Homo sapiens: one gene and its partner. The protein of the gene in region 2 purifies or fractionates together with the protein of the main gene of each other region. This does not show direct contact. Each region holds a gene or a part of one and is shown on either strand. Other genes may lie near its edges. The genes, in order: WDR12 and SEPHS1.

Region 1 (16,196 bases), on a different chromosome or scaffold from region 2:
TTTATTCTCTTAATTTCATTTTTCTACCAAAAATGTTTCTGGTTTTTTTGAGTTTTTAAAATCTTTGTTATACATCACTTGGTTAAGCAGCAAACCCAGATTGAAAACTACATAAAATATGCAACATTAAATATGTAATGTATGTTACATTATATGTTATATATAGTAACATGCATATTATGTTACATTAAATATGTAACAAAATATGTAAAACATTAAAACGTTTTGTGGCTTTTATGGATATTAATATTTCTCAAACTAGATTATAAACCACTTAAAGTTAATAGCTAATCATATACAATCTCATTTACTCAGCCCTATCAAAAAATAAAAAATTCTACTAAAGAATTTTCTAAACTAAATCACTTTTTGCCACCAAATTATTTGCTTTCATCATTTTTGTAAAATCTACTAAAACGGATTATATATTTCCCACCATCTTACACATAATTATTCAAAACTGGTTAAGCTTTTCTTGATCCCCCTCAAGTCTTTGTGAAATGCATTTGGGGTATTATACTGTGTAACACAGCAATTACCTAAAAAGTAACAGAGGTATTCTGATTTGTTTACCTATGCAATAAATAGTTGTAGCTACTAGGTCTTAAAATGTAAGTATCTATGGGTGTGTGTTTTTTCCTCTTTTCTTCTCATCAGTGTCTTCTTACTACTATGAAAGCACCTTCCTCTCAAAGTCCTTCCTCCTCCTCCCTCAATTTGCTCCTTTTAATCTATGCTTTCAGAGTAAAAATATTAATATTGGTAAAACTGCATTGAAAAATTTTTTTAAGTAAACCAGCTTACCTAAGAAATTAACAGTAAAATGACTCAAAAGTCATTCTTACATTACTTAAGTCAAAATGGCTCGGAAAGTATTTTTATTTACTTCCAAGTTTCCTGAATAAGAGAACTTTGAGAATCAAGGTATTTATGTCCTATTGCACCAAACATGTTTTTGATACTTGCAATTCAGTGACACTATCCTGTAAGTAAGGGGGTGGTGGGGTAGGAAAAAAAAAATCTTGAAACACAAAGAAATATATGAATTTGTTGCCATACTGGTCTCTTTTTATGGCAAAATATGGGTTAAAAAGTCCCCTTTCACTAAACTGATTTTTTTTTTTTGAGACAGGTTCTCACTCCATCACCCTGGCTGAAGTGCAGTGGCATGGTATCATAGCTCACTGAAACCTCAAACTCCTAGGCTCAAACAATCCCCTTACCTCAGCCTCCCAAGGAGCTAGGACTACCGGTGCATACCACCACACCTTGCTAATTTTAATTTTCTACTTTTAGTAGAGACGGGGTCTCACTATGTGGCCTAGGCTGCTCTTGAACTCGTGGCCTCAAGTGATCCTTCTACCCTGGCTTCCTGAAGTGCTGAGATTATAGGCGTAAGCCACCATATAGCCTCCGAATTTAAATTTTTGAAACAACATTATTAAGTCAAGGTAAAATAAATATTTAATTTACCTGTAGACCAGATCTTTAGCATCTTATCCCAGGAGCCACTGCAAAACTAAACAGATGTATATGAAGGGAAAAGACATATGTAATATGATTCATATTATTTGCCTACAACAGTAGGTCTCTTCCTCATTCAGGACCTTTTCAAAGAACTTGTGTTCCACAGAACTGAAATTAGCCTTTTTCCAGGGGCAGATAGGACAGAACATAAAATCTGGGAAATCTTGAAGGCCAAGCTTATTGCCATGTCTTTTGAAGAAAGCCAATCTGAAGTGAGAGAGAATAAAGTCAACTTGAGGGACAAGACAGCGAGAGGGTGTGCGGACCACATTCAAGCCTCTATTCCACTGGTTCCTGAGGCCCAAATGCACCATTACCCTTCTTGTGATGTGGTTGTTCAATCTTTCCTTGGATCTCACAATCCATTTACTTTTAAGGTTAAATAAGTTCAAGTTGAGTTTCTATCTCTCCTTAACCAAAAAGAAGAGGTACAGTTAATCCACTAAAGTTTGGACTAAACAACATATAAAACTTTTCGGCTCAATATGAAAAATCATAAATCTTCACCTTTGAATACAAGCATCCTGTTACCCTAACTGTCAAAGAAACACTCTTAAGTCCAGAATACTTCAATGTGGCTTAGGAAACTTTCAAATTCTAAGTGGATTTATAACCCTTCATATTAATAAATCAATATGGTATTGCCCTCAGGTTTGTTACCTTTTAACTAACTTTTACCATTTTGTCATGATAAAGAGTAGATTGATACTATAGTAAAACTCTATTAGCACTAACTTTAGTGTATGCTAATGCTCAGACTATCAACTAGGCGTTTTCAGTTGATGACAGCACTTAAGAGTAGCTGATATAGACTGGAAATATGTCAATTACTATGAGGTAAGAAGGTTATATAAATGAATGGCTTGTTTACTTCATTTCTTTCTTTTTTTTTTTTTTTTTTTTTGAGACTGAGTTTCACTCTTGTTGGGCCCAGGCTGGAGTGCAACGGTGCAATCTCGGTCACTGCAACCTCTGTCTCCCGGGTTCAAGTGATTCTCCTACCTCAGCCTCCCGAGTAGCTGGGATTACAGGCATGCGCCACCATGCCCGGCTTATTTTTTTTTTTTTTTTTTTTAGTAGAGACAGGGTTTCTCCATGTGGGTCAGGCTGGTCTTGAACTCCTGACCTCAGGTGATCTGCCCGCCTCGGCCTCCCAAAGTGCTGGGATTACAGGCGTGAGCCACCGCGCCCGGCCCATACCTCATTTCTTAAAATTTCTGGAGTTTATATAAGGTTCTAAACCAGGGATTCAAACTGAGCAAGTGACTATCTCCTATTGTATGAGTATTTACTCTTGCTTTGAAATCCTATCTTTTGTCACCGATTGTTAGGAAACTAGGCCAACACAATGAATATATGCAGAAGAAAATGTTTAGCAACAAGCTCAAATTCAAATTTAACAGAGTACTAATAATATTCTAGCTACTTACTTTAGTTCCTGAGCCATCAACAGCTATAGAATCTACACTTCCAGCATGACCTCTACAGCAGTGTAGGGCTTTCACTTTGTTTCTCTCTACATTCCACTCCCATAAGAGAATAGTCTGATCCATAGAAGCACTCAATAATAAGCAGGACAAACTATCTGGAGAAAGGAGAACACAAGAATAAGAAACAAATCAGTATACCATTTAGAATACATCATGTTCTGAAACCAAAGAACTAAATTTTTTTGTTGTTATTGAAAAAGATGTTAAAAAGATAACTCATATGGCCAGGTTTTAAAAGGCTGATGTGGTATAAAGAAAAGATTCTTCAAAAATAGATGACGATGACTGGGTGTGGTGGCTCACGCCTGTAAATACTGACATTTTGGGAGGCCAACACAGGCAGATCACTTGAGGTCAGGAGTTTGAGACCAGCCTGGCCAACATGGCAAAACCCTGCCTCTACTAAAAATATAAAAATTAGCCGGGTGTGGTGGCAGGCGCCTGTAATTGCAGCCACTCAGGAGGCTGAGGCAGGAGAATCACTTGAACTCAGGAGGTGGAAGTTGCAGTGAGTTGAGATGGAGCCACTACACTCTAGCCTGGGCGACAGAGTGAGACTCTGCCTCAAAAAACAAACAAACAGGCTGGGTGCAGTGGCTCACGCCTGTAATCCCAGCACTTTGGGAGGCCAAGGCGGGTGGATCATGATGTCAGGAGTTCGAGATCAGCCTGGCCAAGATGGTGAAACCCCGTCTCTACTAAAAATACAAAAATTAGCCAGGCGTGATGGTAGGTGCCTGTAGTCCCAGCTACTCGAGAGGCTGAGGCAGGAGAATCGCTTGAACCTGGGAAGTGGATGTTGCAGTGAGCCGAGATCATGCCACTGCACGCTAGCCTGGGTGACACAGCGAGACTATCTCAAAAACAAAACAAAACAAAACAAAACAAAACAAACAAACAAAAACAGAAGAAAATAAAAGATGAATGTAATACATTCAATATTAACTTGAAAATGTATATTATCTGATGTAATTTTAATAAAGATACACTTCTAACAATTTATGAATTTTTTATATAATCTTTTTCTTCTTGAACACTGTATTTTTTGAAAGACCTCATAATAACTGAGGTATGAGATACTTCCCACCCACTCCCCATTCTTCCCCAGCACCAAAAATGGCTTATTTCCAAATCCCTATCTAGGATTCCTCTAAGTGTAGGCAAACTGTCCTAACCTTTTTTCACCCAGGCCACATCTTTTACAACATCCGTATGTCCCACAATTGTCATTATTGACTTTCCTTCCAAGGACCAGATCCGAGAAGTCTTATCATAAGAACCAGTCAAGATCCTATGAGAAAAAAAAATCTTATGAAACACAAAAAGCAGTTTTTCCAAACCCTGAAATGTTTCTTTGGCAATGACAAAGTAACTTTGAGGATTATACTTTTAAACTCTTTTTTGATATGAAGATTGAGATTTCAAGCCATACTAGATCAGATCACTTGACGTTTCTCAACCTCCTAAAAATAATACCTGGCATGGCTGGGCGTGGTGGCTCACGCCTGTAATCCCAGCACTTTGGGAGGCTGAGGCAGGCGGATCACGAGGTCAGGAGATCGAGACCATTCTGGCTAACACAGTGAAACCCTGTCTCTACTAAAAATACAAAAAATTAGCCAGGCATGGTGGCGGGTGCCTGTAGTCTCAGCTACTCAGGAGGCTGGGGCAGGAGAATGGCGTGAACCCAGGAGGCAGAGCTTGCAGTGAGCCGAGATTGCGCCACTGCACACCAGCCTGGGTGACAGAGCGAGACTCCGTTTCAAAAAAAAAAAAAAAAAAAAATATATATATATATATAAAAAATATATATCATATATATACATAGTATAAAATTACTTTCAGGCTAGGTGTATAAGCTGTATATGAAACATAAATGAATTTCATGTTTAGACTTGGATCACATCCCTAAAATATTTCACTATGTATATGTTAATATTCCAAAACCACCCCCACCCAAAAAAAATCCTACATCCAAAATACTTCTGGTACCAAACATTTCCAGATAAGGAATACCCAACCTGTAGTACTCTTTTTTCTTTTTGAGATGGAGTCTTGCTCTGTTGCCCAGGCTGGAAGGCAGTGGCGCGATCTCAGCTCACTGCAACCTCTGCCTCCTGGGTTCAAGTGATTCTCCTGCCTCAGCCTCCCGAGTAACTGGGACTATGGGCACAGACCGCCATACCTGGCTAATTTTTTATATTTTTGGTAGAGACAGGTTTCAATATTTTGGCCAGGCTGGTCTCAAACTTCTGATCTCAAGTGATCCACCTGCCTTAGGCTCCCAAAGTGCTGTGATTACAGGCGTGAGCCACGCGCCTGGCTGTCCACCTGAAGTATTTTGTACTTAACCAGTGAAAACCATTTAAACTAAAAGTAAAACTAGGAGAAATATAACTTTATGTAATAACTCCAAGAAGGCATTCTTTGAAAGAAGCTCCTACCATAATCTACTCTTGAGTTGTTTTCCTACAAGTAAGGCCAGTGAGGATTTGCCCTAAGATATCTGTACCTTCTTTGCTGAGTCCAGTCTGCTCCTTCTAGCCCTAAAATAGTATGCTATGCATCTTTAAGGTATTAGGCCAGGAGATCTATGGCTATAAAAGTTACTTTTTTCCTTTATGAAACAAACTATATCCTTGGTCTTAAAAGCAACATAATCGAACCAAATAAATTAAATGCTCTAAGATACATGACTTATTCAGAAGACAAATATTGCTGGGTGTAGAGAAATCCCACCTATTCAGGAGGCTGAGGCAGGAGGACTGCTTGAGCCCAGGAGTTTGCGACCAGCCTGGGCAAGAGAGAGAGACCCCGTTTAAAAAAAAAAAAAAAAAGGCAACAATAATTGTTACTACCACATATTGAACAGAACAGAAAAAGAGTACCTATTAATAAATACCTGTGGTTTTTTTTTTTTTTTTTTTTTTTTTTTTGAGACAGAGTCTCATTCTGTTGCCCAGGCTTGAGTGCAGTGGGGCCATCTCAGCTCACTGCAAGCTCCACCTCCCAGGTTCACGCCATTCTCCTGCCTCAGCCTCCCAAGTAGCGGGGACTACAGGCGCCCACCACCACGCCCGGCTAATTTTTTGTACTTTTTTAGTAGAGACAGGGTTTCACCATGTTAGCCAGGATGGTCTCGATCTCCCAACCTCGTAATCCACCCTCCTCGGCCTCCCAAAGTGCTGGGATTACAGGCATGAGCCACTGCACCCAGCCACCTGTTTCTTCTTGAAGACACTGAATGAAAAGATCTTTCTGTTTGCCATGGCCACTGATACAGAGATCACAAAATTAATTTACAAATAACATTAAATCACAGAAAAATATGTATATATGGATTTAAAAAGACTGAAGGAGGTAAAAACAAAACAAAAAAAAGAGAAGGGCATTAATCTGGCAATACCATTCCTCTGCCCCTTTAATTGAACTGATCCAGTCATCATGGAACATGCATTGCTCTGGCTGGGGTGCAGTATACTTCTCCACGTATTCTATTTCCACAACTTCTTCCTAATCACAAGAGAAACCAGCAACAAGTCAGGTGGTCTAGTTTTAAAATATTACATTATGAAGATAACCCCCAATTTAATATATCTCCTTTATATCCTTCATATTAGTCCCCTTTATAACTCAGCAAATTTGGAGCCATTCAAAAAGTCAAGAACTTTATTTGACCTAACTGTAAGCTAAGAGTGATATTAGGAAATAATAGCTTGGCATGGTGACTCACACCTGTAGTCCCAGCTATTAACATTAGGAAAGCTGGGGCAGGAGGACTGCTTCAGCCTAGGAGTTCAAGTCCAGCCCAGGCAACAAAGCAAGACCCTGTCTCCTAACAAAAATTTTAAAAAGAAGAAATATTAATCGCCTTGTACAACTTATGCTGCAAATGGGGGGGAAAGGAATATAAGAAAGCCTTAGGCCAGGTGCAGTGGCTCACACCCATAACCCCAGCACTTTGGGAGGCCGAGACGGGTGGATCACCTAAGATCAGGAGTTCAAGATGTGCCTGGCCAACATGGTGAAACTCTGTCTCTACTGAAGATACAAAAATTAGCCAGGCGTGGTGGCAGATGCCTGCAATCCCACTACTTTGGAGGCTGAGGCGCAAGAATCATTTGTACCCAGGAGGTAGAGGTTTCAGTGAGCCAAGACTGTGCCATTGCACTCCAGCCTGGGCAACAGATGGAGACTCTGTCTCAGAAAAAAAAAAAAAAAAGAAGATAAAAGAAAACATTAAAATTAAGAAAAAAAGCACATTGTTTAATGGGTACAGGTCTTCTGTTTAGGATAAGGAAACAATTCTGGAAAATGGTGATGGTTGCATAATACTGCAAAGGCACTTAATGCCACTGAATTGTATACTTAAAAATGGTTAAAATTCTAAATTTTATGTTATGTATATTTTACCACAATTTTTAAAATCACAAAACAAGCAACAATTATAAGTTATATTTTTAATCATAAAAGCAATATAAGGAAACTTTGAAAATAAAAGGGAAAAATAACAGTAACTTAACCCATAGTTTTTATATTTGCCCAGTTATTTTGTGCACCAGTATTTGTACACACATATTTGCTATTCCCTTTCTTGCCAGTTCTTCCACAAATATAAAGAATGTGTTCATTTATTTCTTGAATAAAACACTCTCACAAAAAAAGAGGGCTTCAAAATTGAATATACAGGAATATACATATATATATACACACACACTATATATATTCAATACACACATAAAATATACACACAATACATAACACACACAACATATATAGCCAATATATTAAAAAGAATCTTTGCTACTAAAGATAGATTCAGTGTGATTCTAAAAGGAGTTTACCTACAATAGCCGATAATGCCTCAAGTGAAATACAGAAGATAAGAATTTGAACTTACTGATGAGATGTTCTCCATTTCCATGTGTTTGTCCAAGGGCATTCGCAGAAACTGGCCCTTAATAAGGAAATCAAACTCCACATGTTTGTGGAACTCTGAGGAAAATACATAACAAAATTATCACTCTTAGTGTCTAAAGTAATATTGGCAGAGGTATATGAGAACTCCCAAAACAAACAGGTACCTATTATCCCAGTGTGGCCTGAGTTTCTCTGTGATTTTTAAGATCAGAAATACTTTGTTCTGTTAGTATAATGTCTTTTTACTGTTGTTGGTGTAATTATTTTGGTTTAGAAAACTTTTATTATTTCAAACATACACAAAAGTAGAAATAACAATGAATCTCATCACTATTGCCCATTTTGACATCCACCAACTAATGGGACATCATCTATATTCCACCCTCCATTCCCCGGCTGGTTTATTTTAAAGCAAATCTCAGAAATTATATCATTTCATCTGTAAATACTTTAGTATGTATCTCTAAAATATAAGGACTTCAAAAATTTGTCACAATATTTTAAAATTTAACAATCACTCCTTCTAACATCAAATAGTCAATGTTCTTTTACAGTGAGCTTTCAAAAATCAGCATCCATAATCCATACATTATATTTGATTAATGTTTCTTTTAATCTTTAACAGTTCCTCCTCCTTTTTCTCCTTGCCATGTATTTGTTGATGAAAGTGGGTCATCTGTTTTGTAACATTCTGGGTTTTGTTGACTCCATCTCCAAGGTGTCCTTTAACATGCTTCTTTATCACACAAATATCCTATAAACTAGTCAGAGGTAAATGGTAAATGCCTGGTTAGATTTCAGGGTTTTTTGGGTTTTTTTTGACAAGAATATTCACAGGCAGTATTGTCTATTTCCTGTTACATCCCATCAGGATGTAAATAGGTTCTGGTTGTGTCTCTTTTTAAGATATTAAGACCCATCATAGGGCTTGGATTATATCAGTCTGATTCTATCCACCATAATGCTCCTTGTCAGTCTTTTACCTAATTATCGGGATTAACAGCTATTGAGAACCAATACTGTACTTACATTCATTTCTTTCAGAGTTGCAATATGGTAACAGTCTATACAGAAGGAATAATGTTCGGTCTATATGTTTAGAAAAATGTTACCCAACTATTTGGGTAACATACTGGAATTGCAAAGCTTCTCTTACAGGAATAATTCTTTCCTCAACAAAATACTTGCAAACCAAATTCAACAACACATTAAGAAGATCATCATGACCAAGTAAGATTTATCCCAGGGATGCAAGAATAGTTCAACATACACAAATCAATGTAATACACTGTGATGGTTAACACTGAGTGTCAACTTGATTGGATTGAAGGATGCAAAGTATTGTTCCTGGGTGTGTCTGTGAAGGTGATGCCAAACGAGATGAACATTTGAGACAGTGGAATGGAAGAGGCAGACCTACCCTCTATCTGGGTAGGTACCATCTAATCAGCTGCCAGCATGGCTAGGATAAAAGGAGGCAGAGGAATGTGGAAGGACTAGACTGGATCAGTCTTCAGGCCTTTATCTTACTCCTGTGCTTCCTGCCCTCAAACATTGAACTCCAAGTTCTACAGCTTTTGGATTCTTGGACCAGTGGTTTGCCAGGGATTCTCAGGTGTTTGGCCATAGACTGAAGGCTGTACTGCCGGCTTCCCTACTTTTGAGGTTTTGGGACTCGGACTGGCCTCCTTGCTCCTCATCTTGCAGACAGCCTATCGTAGGACTTCATCTTGTGATCGTGTGAGTCAATACTCCTTAATAAACTCCCTCTCGGCTGTGCGCAGTGGCTCACACCTGTAATCCCAGTACTTTGGGAGGCCAAGAGTTCAAGACCAGCCTGACCAGCATGGTGAAACCCCGTCTCTACTAAAACTACAAAAATTAGCCAGCCGGGTGTGGTGGCACGCGCCTGTAATCCCAGCTACTCGGGAGGCTGAAGCAGGAGAATTGCTTGAACCCGGGAGGTGGAGGTTGCAGTGAGCCGAGATCGTGCCACTGCACTCCAGCCTGGGCGACAGAGCAAGACTCCGTCTCAAAAAAAACCAAAAAAACAAAAAATCTCTCTTTCATATATACATCTATTCTATTAGTCCTGTCCCTCTAAAGAACCCTAATATATACATCATATCAACAGAATGAAGGACAAAAAGCATATGATCATTTCAATTGATGCTGAAAAAGCATTTGATAAAATTCAACATCCTTTCATGATAAAAGCCCTCAAAAAACTGGGTATAGAAAAACATACTTCAACATAATAAAATTCATATATAATAGACCCCCATACTAAATGGGGAAAAAACTGAAAGCCTTTCCTCTAACATCTGGAACATGATAAGGATGCCCACTTTTACCACTGTTATTCAACACAGCAATGGAAGTCCTAGCTAGAGCAATCAGATGGAAGGAAGGAAGGAAGGAAGGAAGGAAGGAAGGAAGGAAGGAAGGAAGGAAGGAAGTGAGGGAGGGAGGGAGGGAGGGAGGAAGGGCATCCAAATTGGAGAGGAAGATGTCACATTATCCTTGTTTGCAGATGATTTGATCTTATATTTGGAAAAATCAATGATATAACGTTATATTTGATATAATCTTTATTTTACCAAAAACCAATTAGGACTGATAAATTCAGTAAAGTTGCATGATACAAAAATCAGTAGCATTTCTATATGCTAACAGCGAACAATCAGAAAAAGAAATCAAGAAAGTATTTCTACTTACAGTAGCCACAAATAAAATACCTAGGAATTAACCAAAGAAGTGAAAGATCTCTACAACAAAAACTATAAAACATCGATGAAAGACATTGAAGAGGGCTGGGTGCAGTGGCTCATGCCTGTAATCCCAGAACTTTGGGAGGCTGAGACGGGTGGATCACCTGAGGTCAGGAGCTCGTGACCAGCCTGGCCAACATGGTGAAACCAAGGCTGTACTAAAAATACAAAAATTAGCTGGGCGTGGTGGCAGGCACCTGTAATCCCAGCTACTCAGGAGGCTGAGGCAGGAGAATCGCTTGAAACCGGGAGGTGGAGGTCGCCATGAGGTGAGATTACGCAATTGCACTCCAACCTGGGCAACAAGAGTGAAACTCTGTCTCAAAAAAAAAAAAAAAAAAAAAAAAAAGAAAAGAAAAAGAAAAAAAGAAATTGAAGAGGACACAAAAAAATGGAAAGATATTCCAGGATCATGGATTGGAAGAATTTAATATTGTTAAAATGTCCATAGTACCCAAAGCAACCTACAGATTCAATGCAATCCTTATCAAAATACCAATGACATTCTTCACAGAAAAAAAAAAATCCTAAAATTTACATGGAACCACAAAAGAACCAGAATAGCCAAAGCTACCTTAAGCAAAAAGAACAAACTTGGAGGAATCACATTACCTGACTTCAAATTATACTACAGAGCTATAGTAACCAAAACAGCATGGTACTGGCATAAAAACAGACACATACACCAATGGAACAGAATAGAGAAGCCAAAACAAATCCACACATCTACAGTGAACTCAAACCTACACTGGGGAACAGCCAGTCTCTTCAATAATGGTGCTGGAAAAACTGGGTATCCATATGCAAAAAAAATGAAACTAGACCCCTATCTCTTGCCACATACAAAAGTCAAAACAAAAGGGATTAAAGACTTAAATATTTGTAAGACCTCGAACTATGAAACTAATACAAGAAAACATTGGGGAAACTCCCCAGGGCAGTGGTCTGGGCAAAAATTTCTTGAGTAATACCACACAAGCACAGGCAATCAAAGCAGAAATAGACAAATGCGATCCCATCAGGTTAAAAAGCACAGCAAAGGAAACAATTAACAAAGTGAAGAGACAACCCACAGAATGGGAATAATTATTTGCCAACTACCCATCTGACAAGGGATTAATAACCAGAATATATAAGGAGCTCAAAAAGCTCTGTAGGTAAAAATTTAATAATCTGATTAAAAATTGGGCAAAAGGTTTGAACATACATTTCTCAAAAGAAAATTCAAATGGCAAACAGGTAAATGAAAGGGTGCTCACCATCACTGATCATCAGTGAAATACAAATCAAAACTACAATGAGATATCATTTCACCCCAGATAAAATGGCGTTTTTCCCCACCCCTCCCAAGACGGAGTCCTGCTCTGTCACCCAGGTTGGAGTGCAGTGGCACGAGCTCGGCTCACTACAACTTCCGCCTCCCGGGTTCAAGCAATTCTCCTGCTTCAGCCTCCTGAGTAGCTGGGTTTACAGGCACCTGCCACCATGCCTGGCTAATTTTTGTATTTGTAGTAGAGATGGGGTTTACTATTTTGCCCAGGCTGGTCTCAAATTCTTGACTTCATGATCCACCCACCTTGGCCTCCCAAAGTGCTGGGATTACAGGCGTGGGCCACCACGCCAGGCCAAAATGGCTTTTATCTGAAAGTCACGCCATAAAAAATGCTGGTGAGGATATGGAGAAAAGGGACCCCTCATAAACCTTGGTGGGGATGTCAATTAGTACAACTACTATGGAGAACAGTTTGGAGATTCCTCAAAAAACTAAAAATAGAGCTACCATATGATCCAGCAATAGCACTGCTAGGTATATACTCAAAAGTAGAGAAATCAGGAAATCAATACTTCTACACAATGGAGTACTATTCAGCCATAAAAAAGAATGAGATCCTGTCATTTACAACAACATGGGTAGAATTGGAGGTCATTATGTTCAGTGAAATAAGCCAGGCACAGAAAACAAACTTTGCATATTCTCACTTATTTGTGGGAGCTAAAAATTAAAACATTGAACTCATGGAGATACAGAGTAGAAGGAGAGTTACCAGACACTGAGAAGGGTAGTGGGGGAAGTGAGAGGCAAGTGGAAATGGATGGTTAATGGGTACAAAAGAATTGAAAGAATAAATAAGATCTTGTATTTGATAGCACAACTGGATGACTATAGTCAATAATTTAATTATACATTTAAAAACAACGAAGAGTATAATTGGATTGTTTGTAACACAAAGGATAAATGCTTGAGGTGATGGATACCTCATTTACCCTGATGTGATTATTACACCTTATATGCCTGTATCAAAATATCTAATGTACCCCATAGATACACCTACCACGTACCTACAAAAATTAAAAAGAATATTTCTTATTCTAGTTCAAAGACTTGTTCAACAAATAGACTATATAACAGTTTTGAAATTTATAAAGGTAACTATGCATCAGAATCTCTATATATCCATGATGAAAACAAAAACAAGGAGCAACAGGAAATGCTATGTAAATATCCTTGAATATTGAATATTGAACTGTAACTAGCAATAAAAAGATTGCAAACCCTGTCCCCTCCTCCCCCACCCCAAGCCAATAAAGTTGCTCAAAAACATCACCTCAAATTTCACAAAAAAATTATGTGATTATTTGAAGACGAAGATGGGGAAAATACTACACATTAGTTTATAACTCTTACCTCCTCATTCCTCCAACTACGGTAGAGTCAGAAGAGCTCTGCAGCATTGGAAACATCTGCATAAAAATACACTTGCCTCTGGCTGGGCATGGTGGCTCACACATGTAATCCCAGCACTTTGGGAGGCCCAGGAGGGTGGATCACCTGAGGTCAGGAGTTCGAGACCAGCCTCGCCAAATGGTGAAACCCCGTTTCTACTAAAAGTACAAAAAATTAGCCAGGCATGGTAGCGGGCACCTGTAATTCCAGCTACTCTGGAGGATGAGGCAGGAGAATCACTTAATGTTTCATGTTTAAATTTTCTCTATTTTATGTAATGTTTCTTTACTTTTTAAAAAATACTTTATTATAGAAAATTTCATACATATGGAAAAGTTCAGAAATATCAATCAAAACTACAATGAGATACAGAAAATAATATAAGGAGCCTCCTTACACCTATCACCAAACTTCAACATTTTTTTTTTTTTTGAGACTTCCTCTATCACCCAGGCTGGAGTGCAATGGTGCGATCTTGGCTCACTGCAACCTCCGCCTCCCGGGTTCAAGCAATTCTCCTGCCTCAGCCTCCTTAGCAGCTGAGATTACAGGCATGTGCCACCACGCCTGGCTGATTTTTGTATTTTTAGTAGAGACGGGGTTTCACCATGTTGGTCAGGCTGGTCTCAAACTCCTGACCTCGTGATCCACCCGCCTCGGCCTCCCAAAGTGCTGGGATTACAAACTTCAACAATTATTAACTCATAGCCAATCTTATTTCATTGATATTTTTACATACATTGTTCATATTAATTTAATGGGCAAATAACTTATATTAGTACAATAGTATATATTTAATATTTGTATCTTTTAAATGTTTTATATTCTTCCATGTTTTGTTATATCCTTTTTTTATGAATTCTGGACACAAAAAATAAAATACTGGTATTCATACTGTCATTTTGATATTACACTAAACACTCAAATACTGATATTGTCATTTTGCTTTGTGCTTCACTAGTAAATGGGGCCTAAGCACTAAAACGCTTGTTTTATGCCTGCATAACTCAGCCCTCTGTAGAACAATCAATGTCTTGATTACCTCTATATTACAACTTTATACCAAAATCTTTATTCCTTAACTACAACCACCATATTTCCACATGGCCTTAAAAACAGATTAAACAGAAATTTTTTTCTGAAAACTTTTCTTTCAAAGCAGTATTTACAGTATCATCCAGCAGAAGAACCTGTACTTTATAACTTACAAATTTTACCACTACAAAATTCATACAGTATCATAAGGCCAAAAAAGGAACTAAAAACTTAATGCATTTTAGAATAATTAGGGACACTGTGCCCTCTCCTAAGCATATATACCCACCATTTTTGTCCTTTAGTAGTTTATTGATGATGTTACTAAGGTCGGCAATTTCAGAGGCAGCAGGGATTGAGAAGGGAACATCATCTACGGCATATCTATAAAAAGGAAATGATATGTCAAGATCAAGTCTACAGATATTTGAACAAACATGCTTTTACGAATTCAACATACATTTATTGGGTAAATAAATGCCAGACATCCAGACATTTTGCTACATGTTGTAAACAAAAATGAATTAAAACATGGTCTCTGTTCTAAGATGAGGTTGAAGTTTAGTAATCAAATAGAATGAAGTTATATAAGAACAATGCCATTAGGTGACATGTATAAAAAGAACAAAGACACCATAGGTCATTTTAACCACAGAAAAGGAGGGCAGGGGAGCAGGGCCAGAAACGATCCACAGAAAAGATAACTGTTAAGCAACATTTAGAAAAGTGATTAGCCAGGCGTGGTGGCATGTGCCCGTAGTCCCAGCTACTTGGGAGGCTGAGGTGGGAGGACTGCCTGAGCCCAGGAGGTCGAGGCTGCAGTGAGCTGAGATTATACCACTGCACTGCACTCCAGCCTGGGTGACACAGCAAGACCCTGTCTCAAAAGAGAAGTGAGTTTTTGCCAGGTGAGGGAAGGGTAGGCTGGAAGAAGCAGTGTGGACGAAACCAGAGAGAACATCAAAACAATAGCTAGGAGTTGTTAAACTGCCCAGCCACTTCCAGAAAATCTGACTTTGCTCCAAAGTGACCAAAGGCTAAAGAGATACACATGGAGTGCTTTATATATCATGTGAAATCATTTTTACTTCTTTTTTGTGGGTAATGAAGAACTATCACAGCAGTGCAAATTAGAAGTATCATCAGATTTTATTTAGTTAGATCTTTCTGGCTGCACAATGGGCACTGAAATAGAGGAACACATGACAGGAGGCAGATTAGGAGACTCTTATAAGAGAGACTGTGAGAAAATATTTGCAAATCATGTATCTAATAAGGAACTTGTATCTAGACTATATTAAGAACACTTACAACTCAATAATAAAAAGACAACACAAATTTTAAAATGGCCCAATAGGGACATGCAAATGCTCATCATTAGTCATCCAGGTAATGTTAATCAAACACAATGAAATATAATTTCACATCCACTAGGGTGCTATAAGTAAAAAGACAGCTAATAACAAGTGTCAGTGAAAATATGGAGCAATTGGAACCCTGATTATTGCTGGCAGTAACGTAAAATGGTGCAGTTGCTTTGGAAAACAGTCTGGCAGTTCCTCAAAAACTCAAACATGGAATTACATCTGACCCAAAAACTCCACTCCTAAGCATATATGCAAGAGAAACGAAAACATACATCCACACGAAAACTTGTACGAGTGTTCACATAACAACTATTCATAATAGCTAAAAGGTATAAACAACCTAAATGCCCACCAGCTGATG
Region 2 (16,196 bases):
GGGTTTCACCATGTTGGTCAGGCTGGTCTCGAACTCCTGACCTCGACCTCCCAAAGTGCTGGAATTACAGGCGTGAGCCACCAGGCCTGGCCGGCATGTGTATATTTAAAATCCTAAGGTGATTCCACTCTTTTGCGGGTAGAAAACTAGAGTTCTAGAGGAAAGGAAATAGAAAAAGAGAGAAACCGAAAAAAAGGGAAAAACAGGGAGACTTAAAAGATGAAAACAGTAAAGGTAAAGGGAACAAAGGGGGCAAAAGAGAAATGGTACTTCAGGAGGACGCGCCATCTGGCTCCAGCTGGGGCTGCGGGAGTGGGAATGAGCGATGGCGAGCCTGTAGGCTGTGGGTGGCGGCCTCGGCGGCCGGCAGGCCATGCTGGAGTACCTGCCATGATGAAGAGGAGGACGTCCCACAAGTTCCGGACAGATGTGGCCACCAAATTAATCAGGAAACAAAAGGAGCTTAATCTTAGAAAAATGATAAGGGATATAAAAGCTCCCTAGGAGTCAAACTACTGGGGCGTATGGTGTCAGACCTGCACTGCTGTCTGATGGCTCTCTCTACCTACGCTTGCTCCATCTCCCGTTTATCCTCCATTTATGTTTCCTCTAATAAATTACTGCACATCTAAGAAAAAAGAAAAATGGCATTTTAAAGACATAATATCCTATTGCATTCTTTTTTATTCTGTATCATTCTCTTTTCTTTTTTTTTTTTTTTTAAGGCAGAATCTCGCTCTGTCACCCAGGCTGGAGTGCAGTGGCGCAATCTCGGCTCACTGCAACCTCTGTCTCCCAGGTTCAAGTGATTCTCCTGGCTCAGCCTCCCAAGCAGCTGGGATTAAAGGCATGGACCACCACGCCCAGCTACTTTTTTTTTGTATTTTTAGTGAAGATGGGGTTTCACCATGTTGGCCAGGCTGGTCTTCAACTCCTGATCTCACGTGATGTGCCTGCCTCAGCCTCCTGAGGTGCCAGTATTACAGGCAAGAGCCACCACACCTGGCCCCTTTTCTCTCTATCATTCTTAAAACAACGTTAGACAATTTTCAAGGAAAAAAATATCACCTGTTCAAAGTAACCTAGGGGTATTACAGTTAATTTCAAATGCGAAGCTTTCAGTAAAAACTGAATGCTACCTTATTTCCCCCATCACCATATCCTTGCATCAAAAAGAGCACAGGCCACTCAACCTCAGCAAGGCTGCTGGATCCACCCAGGATGGCGGGGACCAGACCCACCGGGAGGAGGAAAGGCACCAGCTGCTGCGGAGGCCGAGGTCAGCAGCATGGAACTCGAACAGAGTGGGGGCCCACTCGGGGTGGGGCTGCTGCTTTCTCGCTGAGCTTTCTGTTAGCCTCACTATTTAGTCCTCAGATGCGCCCAGCATCCTGTACCTGAAGTCTCCGGGCAGGTCCCGTGCATGAGGCCGAACATGTTTCCGCAGGCCTTGCTCACCGCAGCCATCTTGGCCAGCACCGGGAGGTTGTGAATTACAAACGACACCTCGTTCCTCTGCTGCTTGGCCAGGTTCTGCGCATGGCCCAAAATCCCGAAGCCCGTGATGTCAGTGGCGGCGTGGGCATTGAACGTGTGCATGAGTCCTGCAGCTGGGAGAGAGAGGGGGCGGCTCTGAGAAAAAACACCTTTCCTCAACTCAAAAATCTTACGTCCACAATTAATCTGCAACTTCCTTACTTGTCAGGGAGATGACGTATCGGAATAATGAAAACGCAATGTAAAATCAACCAAAGACATAGTGAAATTCCAAAAGTTCTTATTTCACTTTGAGCCACCTGAAAACTATCAGAAGCTTCAATTAATAGTAGTTTTCCAGTAAACTAAAAAAACTATGCAGAGGGATTATGATCTCAGTGGAAGGTAAACCGGCCAAGACCATCCTAAAACCAAAGACCGGCACTTTTTTCCTTTTTTGAGATGGAGTCTCGCTCTGTCATCCAGGCTGGGGTGCAGTCGTACGATCTCGGCTCACTGCAACCTCTGCCTCCAGGGCTCAAGTGATTCTCCTGCCTCAGCCTCCTGAATAGCTGGGACTACAGGTGCGCACCACCACGCCCAGCTAATTTCTGTATTTTTAGCAGAGACAGGGTTTCACCATATTGGCCAGGCTGATCTTGAACTCCTGACCTCATGATCCGCCCGCCCTGGCCTCCCAAAGTGCTGGGATTACAGATGTGAGCCACCACACCCGGCCAAGACCAGCACTTTTTAAGAAGGCCTTGCTCAGTATCAAGGTACTCCCGCGAAAGGTGAATTGCGTGCAAGTTTATTTTTAAATTTCTTTCTTTTTTTTTTTTTTAAGAGACAGAGTCTTGCTCTATTGACCAGGCTGGAGTGCAGTGGCATGATCATAACTCACTGCACTTGGGCTCAGGCAATCGTCCTGCCTCAGCCTCCCAAAGCGCTGGGATCACAAGTGTGAGCCACTGCTCAATAATATTCCATACTACAGATACACTACATTTTGTTTATCCATTCATCCACTCACCTACTATTATTTAATTATCCATTCACCCGACCTATTATTTAATTTTAAAAAAATTTACAGACTTTATTTTTTGGAGCAGTTTTGCGTTTAGAAAGAAATTAAGTGGGAAGTAACAAATCCTCAGTGCTCTGCTCTACCTGATCCCCTTCCTCTCCGATAACCTCTGGCCACCACTGATCCTTTCTGCATCTCTACAGTTTTGCAGAATGTCATGCAGTTGGAATCCTTCTGTATGGAGCTTTTTCAGACTGGCTTCTTTCACTTAGTAATATGCACTTAAGATTCCTCCACATCTTTTCATGGCTTGATAGCTCATTTCTTTTTACTGCTCAATTATATTCCATCATACAGATACACTACATTTTGTTTATCCATTCATCCACTCACCTACTGAAGAAATGAATGGCTGCTTCCAAGTTCTGGCAATTATGAATAATGCTGCTATGAACATTTGTCTGCAGGCTTTTGTGTGAATGTAAGTTTTCAACTTTTTTGAGTGAATATCAAGGAGCACAATCGCTGCATCATATAATAACATATTTAGTTTCATAAGAAACTGCCAAACTGACTTTTAAAGTGGCTGTGCCAGTTTTCAGTCCTACCAGTAATAAATGAGAGTTCCTTCCTGTTTCTCTACATCCTTGCCAGCAGTTGGTATTATCAGTGTTTTTGGGTTTTTTTTGAGACAGGGTCTCGCTTTGTCACCCAGGCTGGAGTGAGGTGGTGCGATCACAGCTTACTGCAGCCTCGACCTCCTGGGCTCAAGGGATCCTCCCAACCTCAGCTTCCCAAGTAGCTGGGACTAAGGCGCAAGCCACCATGCCCAGCTAATTTTTTGTATTTTTTTGGTAGAGATGGGGTTTCACCATGTTGCCCAGGCTATTCTCAGTGTTTTGGATTTTAGCCATTCTAACAGGTATGTGGTGGCATCTCAATCACTGCTTTAATCTACAGTTCCCTATTGACGTACCACACTGAAGGTTTCCTTTTATGCTTATTTGCCATCTGCGTTATCTTCTTTCATGGTGTCTGTCAAGGTCTTTGGGCCATGTTTAAATTGAGTTGTTTTTTATTATTGAGTTTTAAGAGTCCTTTGTATATTTTGGATACCTGACCTTGAACAGGTATGTGTTTGGCAAAATTTTTCTCCCAGTCTGTGGCTTGTCTTTTCATTTCCTTAACAGTGTTTTTCACCGAGCAGAAGTTTTTTATATTAATAAAGCCAAACTTAGCAATTTTTTAATAGATAGTGCTTTTGGTGTTATAAAGTCATCACCAAACCCAAAGCCACCTCAATTTTCTCTGATGTTACCTTCTTCCAGTTTTATATTGTTGTGTTTTATTTAGGTCTACGAATCATCAATATGGTCTGGCTCTGTGTCCCCACCTAAATCTCATCTCGAATTGTAATCCCCACATGTCAAGAGAGGGACCTGGTGGGAGGTGACTGAATCATGAGGGCGGTTTCCCTCGTGCTGTTCTCGTCAGGGTGAATGAATTCTCATGAGATCTGATGGTTTTGTAAGTGGCAGTTTCCCCTGCTCTTCTCTGTCCTGCTGCCTCATGAAGAACCTAGGTGCCTGTTTCCCCTTCACCATCTGCCACGACTGTAAGTTTCCTGAGGTCTCCCCAGCCATGTGAAACTGTGAGTAAATTAAACCTCTTTCCTTTATAAATTACCCAGTCAGCTGGGCATGGTGGCTCACGCCTGCAATTCCAGCACTTTGGGAGGCCAAGGTCAGGAGTTCAAGACCAGCCTGACCAACATGGTGAAACCCCGTCTCTACTAAAAATACCAAAATTAGTGGGGTGTGGTGGCGTGCGCCCTGTAATCCCAGCTACTCCAGAGGCTGAGGCAGGAGAATCGCTTGAACCTGAGAGGCACAGGTTGCAGTGAGCCGAGATCACCCCACTGCACTCCAGCCTGGGCGACAGCGAGACTCCGTCTCAAAAAAAAAAAAAAAAAAAAAAAAAAAAAAAAAAAAAAGAGACTCAGTCTCAAAAAAAAAAAAAAAAAATAATAATAATAATAATAAATGAATAAATAAATTATCCAGTCTTGGCTATTTATAGCAGTGTGAAAACACACTAAACATTCATTTTGAGTTAATCTTCACGAAAGGTATAAGATCTGCATCCAGAATAATTTTCTTCATGTGAATGTCCACTTGTTCCAGCACCATTTGGTGAAAAGACTCTTTTCTCCAATGAATTGCCTTTACTCCTTTGTCAAAAATCAGTTGACTAGGCCAGGTGCAGTGGCTCACGCCTGTAATCCCAGTACTTTGGGAGGCCGAGACAGGCGGATCACAAGGTCAGGGGTTCAAGACTAGCCTGGCCAACATGGTGAAAACCCATCTCTACTAAAAATACAAAAATTAGCCAGGCGTGGTGGCGGGCGCCTATAATCCCAGCTACTTGGGAGGCTGTGGCAGAAGAATCACTTGAAGTCGGAAGGCGGAGGTTGCGGTGAGCCAAGATCCTGCCACTGCACTTCAGCCTGGGCGAAAGAGCAAAACTCCATCTCAAAAAAAAAAAAAAAATCAGTTGACTATAATATGGACCTACCTCTGGATTCTCTATTCTGTTCCTCTGATCTATAACTTTTTTTTTTTTTTTGAGACATGATCTCACCCTGTCACCCAGGCTGAAGCGTAGGGGTATGATCACCACTCACTGCAGTCTCAACATCCTGGGCTCAAGTAATCCTCCCACCTCAGCCTCTCGAGTAGCTTAGACTACAGGAATGCACCAGGCGCAGCTAAAGAGACGAGATGGGGTCTCACTATGTTGCCTAGGCTGGTCTCCAACTGCTGGACTCAAGTGATCCTCCTGCCTCAACCTCCCAAAGTGCTGGATTATAGGTGTGAGCCACTGTGCCTGGCTATAACTTTCTTACAAGTAACAACAAATTACAGAAAATTTTTATTTCCAAATGAATTGTAAAACAATAGGTAAAAGATAATTGTGGTACATTTCTCTGGTAGAACATTATCTAGTCATTAAAAATTATGTGTACTATGGCTCACGCCTATAATCCTAGCACCTTGGGAGGCCAAGGAGGGTAGATCACCTGAGGTCAGGAGTTCGAGACCAGCCTGGCCAACATAGTGAAACCCTGTCTCTACCAAAAATACAAAAATCCGCCGGGCATGGTGATGATGCGTGCCTGTAGTCCCAGCTACTGGGAAGGCTGAGGCAACAGAACTGCTTGAACCTGGTAGGTAGCGGTTGCAGTGAGCCGAGATCACACCAATGGACTCCAGCCTGGGCGACAGAGTTAGATTCTGTCTCAAAAAAAAAAAAAAAAAAAAAAAAAAAGTTTACTAGGATACATAATATGGGAAACATTAGTCATGTCAAAACAACAAAAGCAGGCACTCCAAATACATATACTAACCATTACATAGTGAAAACTTATACTAACCACTACTTTAAAACAACAATAGTAAATCACCAGCCAAACATGAAAAAAAGTCCTGGAAGAATACATAAAAATGCTAGCCGGAGCTGTTTTGGGTGGAGGGACTATGGACAACTTTTTTCTGTACTATTTTCCATTTTCTAAAAACTTTTCTATAATAAGCATGTAATTCTTTTATAGTAGAAAAAATGTATAAAATAAATGGGAAGAGAAGACATATTAAAAAACGCTTTCTAAACATAGTGTGCCATTGTAAACTGTGGTGAACACTTTGGAAGACAGTTTGGCACTATCTATAAAAGCTGAGCCAGTACTGATCTCTTACACGTGCCTCAGAGGGCTGGGCCAAGGAAGTCCATAGCAGTCGCCCCAGTGTGAAACAGGAGAGCAGAGAAGCCAGTGGAAAAATCAACACAGCCAAAAGGAATCTACTACAGCTACATATAACAAGGAGACTCTCAGGAACAATGGTGAACAAAACAAGTAAAAAAAATGCAAAACTAATTTGCTGCTTAAGAACACAAGGGCTGTGCAATAAAAATATTCTAAAATGCAAGAAAATAAACACAAAATTCAGTGGTTACACCTAAGCAGGAATGCAGGGGATGGGTGGGAGTGGGGGCACTTCTAGACTTCCAAGGTTATGTTCTGGAAATAGCTCCAGTATCTTAAACTTTCTAAATTTCCATTCTGAATGGTTTGCTTCCAAATCTTACATAGGTAACCCACACAAACGCTTTCTAGAAATAGTTCCTCTGGTATGTCAGAAGTTAGGACTTCCTTCTTAATTATAAAGCACTGTAAGTCAGGGACCATCTGCAGTGATCTATGGAATGCCAACCTGGTACCAGGAGAAGACGGTCTGTAGTCACTGGCCAAAAATCTGGCCACCTACCCTGAGACAGTATGTGGCCAGAAAAGCCTAAGACATTTACTGTCTTGGACCCCTGGGACCGAAGCGCCCTTCCCACCTGTCATACCTGTCCTGTTGAGCCTCGCCATGTTCATCATCGCCTCCTGGTAGGCCAGCTCTACATCTTCTTGGGTGACCACTAGTTTAATCTTATTCCATTTCTCAGGCTGATAATAGAAATGTAGGTGAGGGAGAGAAAGAGAGGAAAATGTGATTAATCTTTACTTCTAGCAACTGAGAAAAACAGCAACTTTTTCTTATTTAACTTCTAGGGACTTTAATTCAGAAAACTGAATTTTCCAACTCTGGTTTTTCTGTGGATAGTATTTTAGGTGTCCATTAGACCTGTCAGCATGGCGTCTTTTCTGTTCTCATCCCACATTTCTGTAATTAAGTGCTGTGATTTATTGGGTATGTGTAGTCTAGCGGGACACACGGCGGCACTGCTGTACATGCAGTGTAGTGTCCTGCTAGTGGAGAAGGGCTCCCCCATCCGTGACACTCCCTGCCTCACCTGCTTCCAGCTCCCTGCTAGCTCAGGCCTGGGAGGTGGGGCTGGAAGGCACCTCTGCGCAACATCCCCGCAGTGGCCTTCTGCTCTGCTCCCCATCACAGGGGGAGGAGGGAAAAACTGCTAAAGAACGTGGCAGCCTTAGAGAATTTCTCTACCCTGCGACATCAAGCTAAGATATACCAGGTTGATGAAAGACGTGTAATTATTGATTATTCTCTTTCAACTGTTTCTCAGGACTGGTAGTTTCAGATGATAGTTGTAGAAATTAAATGCACCATGATATGTGAGAATATACCCCAATCTTATTAATTTGTGAGTTGTTACGGCAATGAAGAAAACCAATCTTAAAGTATGATTATAGCTCACTGGAAAAATGACTCACAAGACATATCCTCATTATAGATAGATTCATTCTGCACAAGAGAATTATTTATCAAAATGTTCTGAGTTACTCATCAGTTTAAAAAGACAAAACTACCAAACAAAAACAACCAAAAACTGCATAAAACAATTTAAACTGTCAATAACCCTGGTTTTATTTATACCCCAAACACTACGCCTTCCACCAATTCTCCTTCATATTATTTCTTAGTGATGTTTAAGACATGAAAGACGAAGCTATCTCAGGGCCAAGTAAACAAAGCTAACCCCCTGCCGAGCAAATTCTTTACAGAAAAATCTTAAAGCTCCAAGCTGGGGCTTACCTACTGCAATCAAGCATTCAATATGCAAAACTGTTATTTAAAGACTATGAACAATTCCTAGGATTTCTTTAAGGACTTGACTAATATTAACTCCCTGGATATGAAACTAAAAAACCTCATTTCCCAAATCCTCCAACAAAAATTACCTGCAAACGTACCATTCCCCTCCCTCCCATCACAGCAGTGGTTTACTCACGATATCCAGCCACTGGTGCACAGCCACTGCCACCTGTGTCCCCAGGGGTTTTGTCAGCACCAGCACGTCCCCTGGCACTGCATTGTCTGGCCTGAAGAAAAGAAAAGGGCATGTTCTAGTCAAACTAACCAAGGAGATGAGCTCATTGTTATTAACACAAGAGAAGGAATAATCTGTCAAAAATATATCTGCCTTTGCATTTACTTAAATTGAAGCCAACTACCAGCATGTATGGGACAGAGCCTTGCAACCTGCTACTGAGGCTATTGCTGGAACAAAACATTCAGCCATCAGGCTGGACACAGTGGCTCATTTCTGTAACCCCAGCACTTTGAGAGGTCAAGAGGGGAGGATCACTTGAGCCCAGGAGTTCAGGACCAGCCTGGGCAACACAACAAGGACCCCATTTCAAAAATAATATACATATTTTTAAAAAGAATGAAACATTTAGCCTTCAAACGTTTCATCAGGCCCAGATTTCCCCTCGACCACATACGAGTGTATGTGTAATTTTCACTACAGACCCACTAGCATTCAAAAGCTTCTGAAACAGAGAGTGCTTCTTTATGATCACTGATATGCTAGAGACTCAGGACGGATTTTTCGGCCCAGGGGTTTGGTGGATTTGCAGGCAATCTGTGGGTCTAATGTCTTGGTGATTTCTGCCTCCAGGTTCTCAAACTCAGACTGACTGATGGTGAGTTTCCTACCTGGCACCCAGACGCCTTGGTGGTCCCTGTCTTAGAGACAGAAGGCAATACTAAAAAGGCACCTCTAAAAGATGACAACTGGTGCCCGAATGAAACATCTACCAGACTTGCATTCACACTACCAGGAAGCAGGTCTGAGAGTTGTGCCTTTCGCAGCTTCAGCAGCTGAGCTCCTGAATCGTTCCATTCCCCGATGCTGGCCTCCTCAGGTACTCACCCAAGTCGATGAAAACAAAGCCAGGGCCACAGACTTCAATACCAACACCCAGCTCCCCAGCTCAACCTATACCATTTGTATCCACTCTCAGCTTTGAAAAATAGAATTCTGTGACTACGCAAGAAACTTGTTTTCCAAAAACCAGACCTGAAGACATAAATGTCTTCGAATTCAGACTCAGTTGTACCATAAAGTTGATGTTCTTTTTTTTTAAATTTTTTAAAATTATACTTTAAGTTCTAGGGTACATGTACACAACATGCAGGTTTGATACATAGGTATACATGTGCCATGTTGGTTTGCTGTACCCATCAACCCGTCCTTTACATTAGGTATATCTCCTAATGCTATCCCTCCCCCAGCCCCCTACCCCCGACAGGCCCTGGTGTGTGATGTTACCCGCCCTGTGTCCAAGTGTTCTCATTGTTCAACTCCCACCTATGAGTGAGAACATGCGGCGTTTGGTTTTCTGTCCTTTTGATAGTTTGCTTAGAATGATGGTTTCCAGCTTCATCCATCTCCCTGCAAAGTACATGAACTCATCCTTTTTTACGGCTGCGTAGTATTCCACGGTGTGTATGTGCCACATTTTCTTAATCCAGTCTATCATTGATGGACATTTGAGTTGGTTCCAAGTCTTAGCTATTGTGAATAGTGCTGCAATAAACATATGTGTGCATGCGTCTTTACAGCAGCATGATTTATAATCCTTTGGGTATATACCCAGTAATGGGATTGCTGGGTCAAATGGTATTTCTAATTCTAGATCTTTTTTTTTTGAAACTGAGTTTCACTCTGTCACCCAGGCTGGAGTACAGTGGCACGATCTTGGCTCACTGCAACCTCCGCCTCCTGGGTTCAAACCACTCTCCTCAGTCTCCTGAGTAGCTGGGATTACAGGCGCCTGCCATCGTGCCCGGCTAATTTTTTGTATTTTTAGTAGAGACAGGGTTTCACCATGTTGGCCAGGGTGGTCTTGAACTCCTGACCTCAGATGATCCACCCGTCTTGGCTTCCCAAAGTGCTGGGATTACAGGCATGAGCCACCACGCCCGGCCAAAAGACTGACTTTTCTTAACAAGACATCAAACATGGAAAGTGACAACTTGGTTAGGAGAGAAACTTCTCCAAAGAAGATACACAAATGGGTAGTAAGCACATGAAAAGATGCTCGGCCTCATCAGTCATCAGGCAGACACAAATCAAAACCACAAAGACATTCCACTTCACACCCAGTAGGCTGGCTAGAATCCAAAAGACAGACAGGAAAACAAGTACTGGAGGGGTCATAGAGAAATTGGAATCCTCATACATTGCTGCTGGGAACGTAAAATGGCGCAGCCATGTTGGAGACCAGTCTGATGATTCCTCAAGTTAAACATAATTACCACATGACCCAGTCAATTCTTAGGTATACACCCAAGAGACCGGAACTTATGTCCACACAAAAACTTAGAATGTTCATGGCAGCATCATTCCTAATAGGTGGAAACAACCCAAAGGTCCGTCACCTGAGGAATGGCTAAATAAAGCAGGGTCCATCCATGCAATGGATTATACAGCCATGGAAAGGAATGCGATACCGATTCATGCTACAACACGGATGGACCCGGAAAACATTCCGCTATGGGAGTGAAGCCAGACACAGCATGTCATGCTGCACGATTCCATTTCTATACAATGTCCAGAACAGGCAAATCCTTAGAGACAAAAGCACATTCTTGGTTGCCAGAGGATGGGAGCAGGAGGGAAATGGGAGTGAGCTACAGGGCTTCTTTTTGGGGTGATGAAAACATTCTGGAATTGGATAGTGGTGATGGGTGCACAACCTTGTCAATACTAAAAACCAACACATTGTGTACTTCAAAATGCTGAATTCTATGTTATGTGAAATTTTGTTACGTGAATTATACTTCAACTAAAAAACCTAAAATGTCAGCCGGGCGCGGTGGCTCACGCCTGTAATCCCAGCACTTTGGGAGGCTGAGGCGGTCGGATCATGAGATCAGGAGATCGAGACCATCCTGCCTAACATGGTGAAACCCCATCTCTACTAAAAATACAAAAAATTAGCCGGGCATGGTGGCAGGTGCCTGTAGTCCCAGCTACTCGGGAAGCTGAGGCAGGAGAATGGCATGAACCCGGGAGATGGAGCTTGCAGTGAGCCGAGATCATACCACTGCACTCCAGCCTGGGCGACGGAGTAAGACTCCGTCTCAAAAAAAAAAAACAAAAACACCTAAAATGTCTTAAAAATAGGATTAAAATACTGACACATGCTACAAAATAGATGACCCTTAAAAGTATGCTAATACTATGCTAAGTGACAAAATCCAGGATGGAGCAGGAGTGAACAGTGAGAGCCGAGGAGGATGGGGTTTCTTCCTGTAGCAATGAAAACATCCTAACATCAACTCCGGTAATGGCTGTACAACTCTGAGTATACTCCAAACCACTGACTCTTTAAATGGGTGAATGGTATAGTACGCAAATTATATCTTAATACATCTATTTTTTTTTTTTTTTGAGATGGAGTTTCGCTCTTGTTGCCCAGGCTGGAGTGCAGTGGCGCGATCTTGGCTCACTGCAGCCGCAGCCTCCTGGGTTCAAGTGATTCTCCTGCCTCAGCCTCCCAAGTAGCTGGGATTACAGGCATGTACCATCATGCCTGGCTAATTGTGTATTTTTAGTAGAGATGGGGTTTCTCCATGTTGGTCAGGCTGGTCTCAAACTCCCAACCTCAGGTGATCCACCCGCCTTGGCCTCCAAAAGCGCTGGGATTACAGGCATGAGCAACCGCGCCCAGCCTTGCGTTCTTGTCTTTTTTTTTTTTGGAGACAGAATCTTGTTCTGTTGCCCAGGCTAGAGTGCAGGGGCATGATCTCAGCTCACTGCAACCTCCACCCCTGGGGTTCAAGCGATTCTCCTGCCTCAGCCTCCAGAGTAGCTGAAACTACAGGCTTGCCCCACCATGCCTGGCTAATTTTTGTATTTTTAGTAGAGACAGGGTTTCGCCACATTGGCCAGGCTGGTCTCAAACTCCTGACCTCAGGTGATCTGCCCGCCTCGGCCTACCAAAGTCTGGGATCATATGTGTGAGCCACTGCACCTGACCTTAATACATCAATTTTTAAAAAGAGAGGACAGAGAGAGAAAAACAGGTCAGGTGATATGAAACAAAAATCAACTTACATGATAAATTCATTGGGTTGGCAGACAGTGGTAGCCACTCCTCCCAGGACAATCCAGGGGTTTAGTACTGTTTGGCCGCCTGTTACAGATGTTCCTGCTTCCTCAGCTGCGTCTTTAAAACCTTGGATAATCAGAGGCATCACTTTATCCCTTTCCTAAGGTTGAAAAAGGTACAAATAAAAAGTCAAAGAATTCTGTTCAAAACCCAGAAAAGAAGGTTTTTACACTTACAGTTATAAAAAGAACCATAAAATCCTAAAGGAAGTCCTCAAAGTTTACAGACAGGGAAGGTTGTTAGGGGCCAGGCATAATCGCTCACGCCTGTAATCCCAGCACTTTGGGAGTCCGAGGTGGGCAGAGAGCTTGAGCCCAGGAGTTTAAGACCAGTCTGGGCAATGCAGACAGACCCCTTTCTCTACGAAACATGTAAAAATTGCTGGGTGACCGGGCACAGTGGCTCATGCCTGTATTCCCAGCACTTTGGGAGGCTGAGGCGGGCAGATCACCTGAGGTCAGGAGTTTGAGACCAGCCTGGCCAACATGGTGAAACCCCGTCTCTACTAAAAATACAAAAATTAGCCGGGTGTGGTAGCATGCGCCTGTAATCCCAGCTACTTGGGAGGCTGAGGCAGGAGAATCGCTTGAACCTGGGAGGCAGAGGTTGTAGTTAGCCAAGATCGCATCACTGCACTCCAGCCCTGGGCACAAGAGTGAGACTTCATCTCAAAAACAAAAAAAAAAAATATTGCTTGGTGTGGTGGCATGTGCCTGTGGTCCCAGCTATTCCGGAGGCTGAAGTGGGAGGATGTCTTGAGCCCGGGAGGCTGAGGCTGCTGCAGTGAGCTCTCATCACACCACTGCACTCCAACCTGGGCAACACAGGGAGATCTTGTCTCAAAAACAAACAAAAACAAAAGCTAGAAAATATTTCACATTGTCATCATTTTATCCAATGCTGGAAGATGTTCTAGACAACAATGTAAATAAAGCCCAGACACCAACATTGTCTGGACTCAGTGCACAGGACCAGCCCTAGGTCTGATGACTGCTGGAAGCCAGCTGTCCAGTGCTCCTTGAGAATCTCAAGACTGGCTTCCTAAGCACAGGTCCCCTGCCCTGCAGTAGGCATCCATCCTACCAAGGCTTGGCTGCAGGCTACGAGTAACCCACACTGACAGAGCCTGCGCCAAGACCACCATGCACCACTGATGACTACAGCCCATGTTCAAGGGCAGGAAAGAGCCTACTGGAAACTCAAGTTTCTCTAAGGCAGGGCAAACTGTTGGGGGCTCTTGGGACAAAAACAAGTACCTGTCTATCTAAATAGGAATTCATCTCTGGTTCAAAGAACAGGTTCAGGCAGCAAGGGCACAGAATGCTAGGCGATGACACAGAGGCGTGAGCCCCTGGTGGCCCTATCCCCCGTCACCATCTACGTCCACGACATCCCCAGCCACAGCAGAGGGAGTGCCCTCTAAGTGCCACGTGTCCCACATCTGTAAGGCTGTGCCTGATTCACACTGAGGCACCATTACTATGGCCAAAACTTTATTTTAAAAAATGCACAGGTCGGGCACGGTGGCTCATGCCTATAATCCCAGCACTTTGGGAGGCCGAAGTGGGTGGATCACGAGCTCAGGAGTTCGAGACCAGCCTGACCAACATGGTGAAACCCCATCTCTACTGAAAATATAAAAATTAGCTGGGGGTGCTGGTGTGCCCCTGTAATCCCAGCTACTTGGGAGGCTGAGGCAGGAGAATCGCTTGAACCTGGGAGGTGGAGGTTGCAGTGAGCTGAGCTTGTGCCACTACACTCTAGCCTGGGTGACAGAGTGAGACTCTGTCTCAATAAAACAAAAAAAAATATACACAAATGCCTTGGGCCGGGCACGGTGTTTCACGCCTGCAATCCCAGCACTTTGGGATGCCGAGATAGGTGGATTACCTGAGGTCAGGAGTTCAGGAACAGCCTGGCCAACGTGATAAAACCCCGTCTCTAATAAAAATACACAAAATAGCCAGGTGTGGTGGTACGTGCCTGTAATCCCAGCTACTTGGGAGGCTGAGGCAGGAGAATTGTTTGAACCCGGGAGGCGGAGGTTGCAGTGGACTGAGATTGCGCCACTACACTCCAGCCTGGGCGACAGAGTGAGACTCCTGTCTCAAAAAAAAAAAAAAAAAAAGTCTTGGTTTCAGTCTACTGGGAAGAGAGAAAGGGAGCAGGTGGCAGAAGTGCAGAGATGACTAGGCCAGGCTTCCTCATTTTAATTTACTGGTAACTGCCAAAAAGTGGAGAGCCAGAAGGAGTGCAGGGAGCCATATGGCCTGGGCTCCTCGCTTTCTAGATGGGAAACCAAGTCTAACCAAGGCCAGAGATGCCACCGGGACAACACGGACCAGGCAGCAGCCGGGTAGCTCCTACTTACCCTGTCGGTCATTTTATTACTGACTCCAAGGAGCATCAGCATATTGTCACATTCCGTGACCCCCATTGCATAGAGGTCACTGAGGACATTGGCACACGCTATCCTGCCCTGGGAAGAGAGGGAAACATGAGAAAGGACGACCGGGGACTTTCCATCTGCAGAAACTGAGTGAGCCATGGAGTGGACTCCACAGAGAACGTGGAGACTTTCCAGGAGTAGCAGCTACTAGGATGGGGTCCTCAGTTTCTATGATTTGCAGACTGGCAACCTTTCCTGCATCACAGAGTCACTAGGCCATTCGTTTTTTCTCAGACATTCCTGTTACCACCTCTTTCTTGTGCAGGACAAAGAATGTACCAGTTTTTCTCCATTCTAAATTTTAGAAGTCTGCAATTTATTTAGATAGGGGAAGGGGTATATGTGCAGCGAATGAGGAGGAGAAGCAAGTTTAGAACCGACAGTCTTGGGGGAAGAGCTATGGAGCGAAAAAGCCTGCAAACAACTCTCCTAAAGAAAAGTTGGAAACAGCCACATATCCCAAACAGATTCTAAAAATGGCTGGCTTTAGTGGTTATAGAGATGGAGATAGTCTTTGTGCACTTGGATTAAGAAATGTTTGCAGCTTAGGCTGGGTGTGATAGCTCACGCCTGTAATCCCAGCAATTTGAGAGGCCGAATCAGGTGGATCACTTGAGGCCAGGAGTTAAAGACCAGCCTGGCCAACATGGTAAAATGCTGTTTCTACTAAAAATATAAAAATTAGCTGGGCATGGTGGTGCACACCTGTAGTCTCAGCTACTTGGGAGCCTGAGGCATGAGAATTGCTTGAACCTGGGAGGTGGAGGTTGCAGTAAGCTGAGATCGTGCCACTGCACTCTAGCCTGGGCAACAGAGCAAGACTGTCAATAAACAACAACAAAAAAAAAACAAAAAAAATTTTTGTAGCTTCTTTTCAAGGATGTATGAGATAAACAGAAAAATCATCTTAAGAAACAAATAAAAAAATACCCAGGGCTGAAGTCATATTGTTTTCAAAAGAAAAAGAAGCATTTCCCAGTAAATGATGTCATTTTATTAGGAACTTTAAAATACAATTCAACAGAAATGTGGTAATGAAGATTTTTTTATTGCCACTGGAGATTTTTAAAAGTTAAGTTGCCCTTATCTAAATTTTTATCTTTTATAGACAATAAAGAGAAAATACAAATTTTCCTTCTGACATAAGGATAATCAAACTCCCAAGTGTTATCACTTCCAGTGGCTGTTTAATTGCTTGCTTTAGGCTTTCTTATACATTCCTGGAGGTCAGCAATGCAGCTCAACAACCATCTGTGGCCACACTTTCAGTATCATCAAGCCAGTCCACAAGGCCAACAGGTGGTCTACAACTC

The links.
Region 1: the proteins of SEPHS1 (region 2) and WDR12 fractionate together in Homo sapiens (co-fractionation; 2 studies listed by BioGRID). This does not show direct contact.

Annotation. Positions count from the first base shown.
Region 1 is NC_000002.12:202,893,108-202,909,303, forward strand, and holds part of WDR12 (ribosome biogenesis protein WDR12), read right to left. Parts: intron 14,853-16,196; coding exon 14,758-14,852; intron 8,013-14,757; coding exon 7,918-8,012; intron 6,531-7,917; coding exon 6,424-6,530; intron 4,309-6,423; coding exon 4,193-4,308; intron 3,113-4,192; coding exon 2,958-3,112; intron 1,520-2,957; coding exon 1,474-1,519; intron 1-1,473.
Region 2 is NC_000010.11:13,321,438-13,337,633, forward strand, and holds part of SEPHS1 (selenide, water dikinase 1), read right to left. Parts: intron 14,914-16,196; coding exon 14,806-14,913; intron 12,535-14,805; coding exon 12,380-12,534; intron 8,352-12,379; coding exon 8,261-8,351; intron 7,014-8,260; coding exon 6,914-7,013; intron 1,611-6,913; coding exon 1,398-1,610; intron 1-1,397. UniProt on the Homo sapiens protein: Synthesizes selenophosphate from selenide and ATP.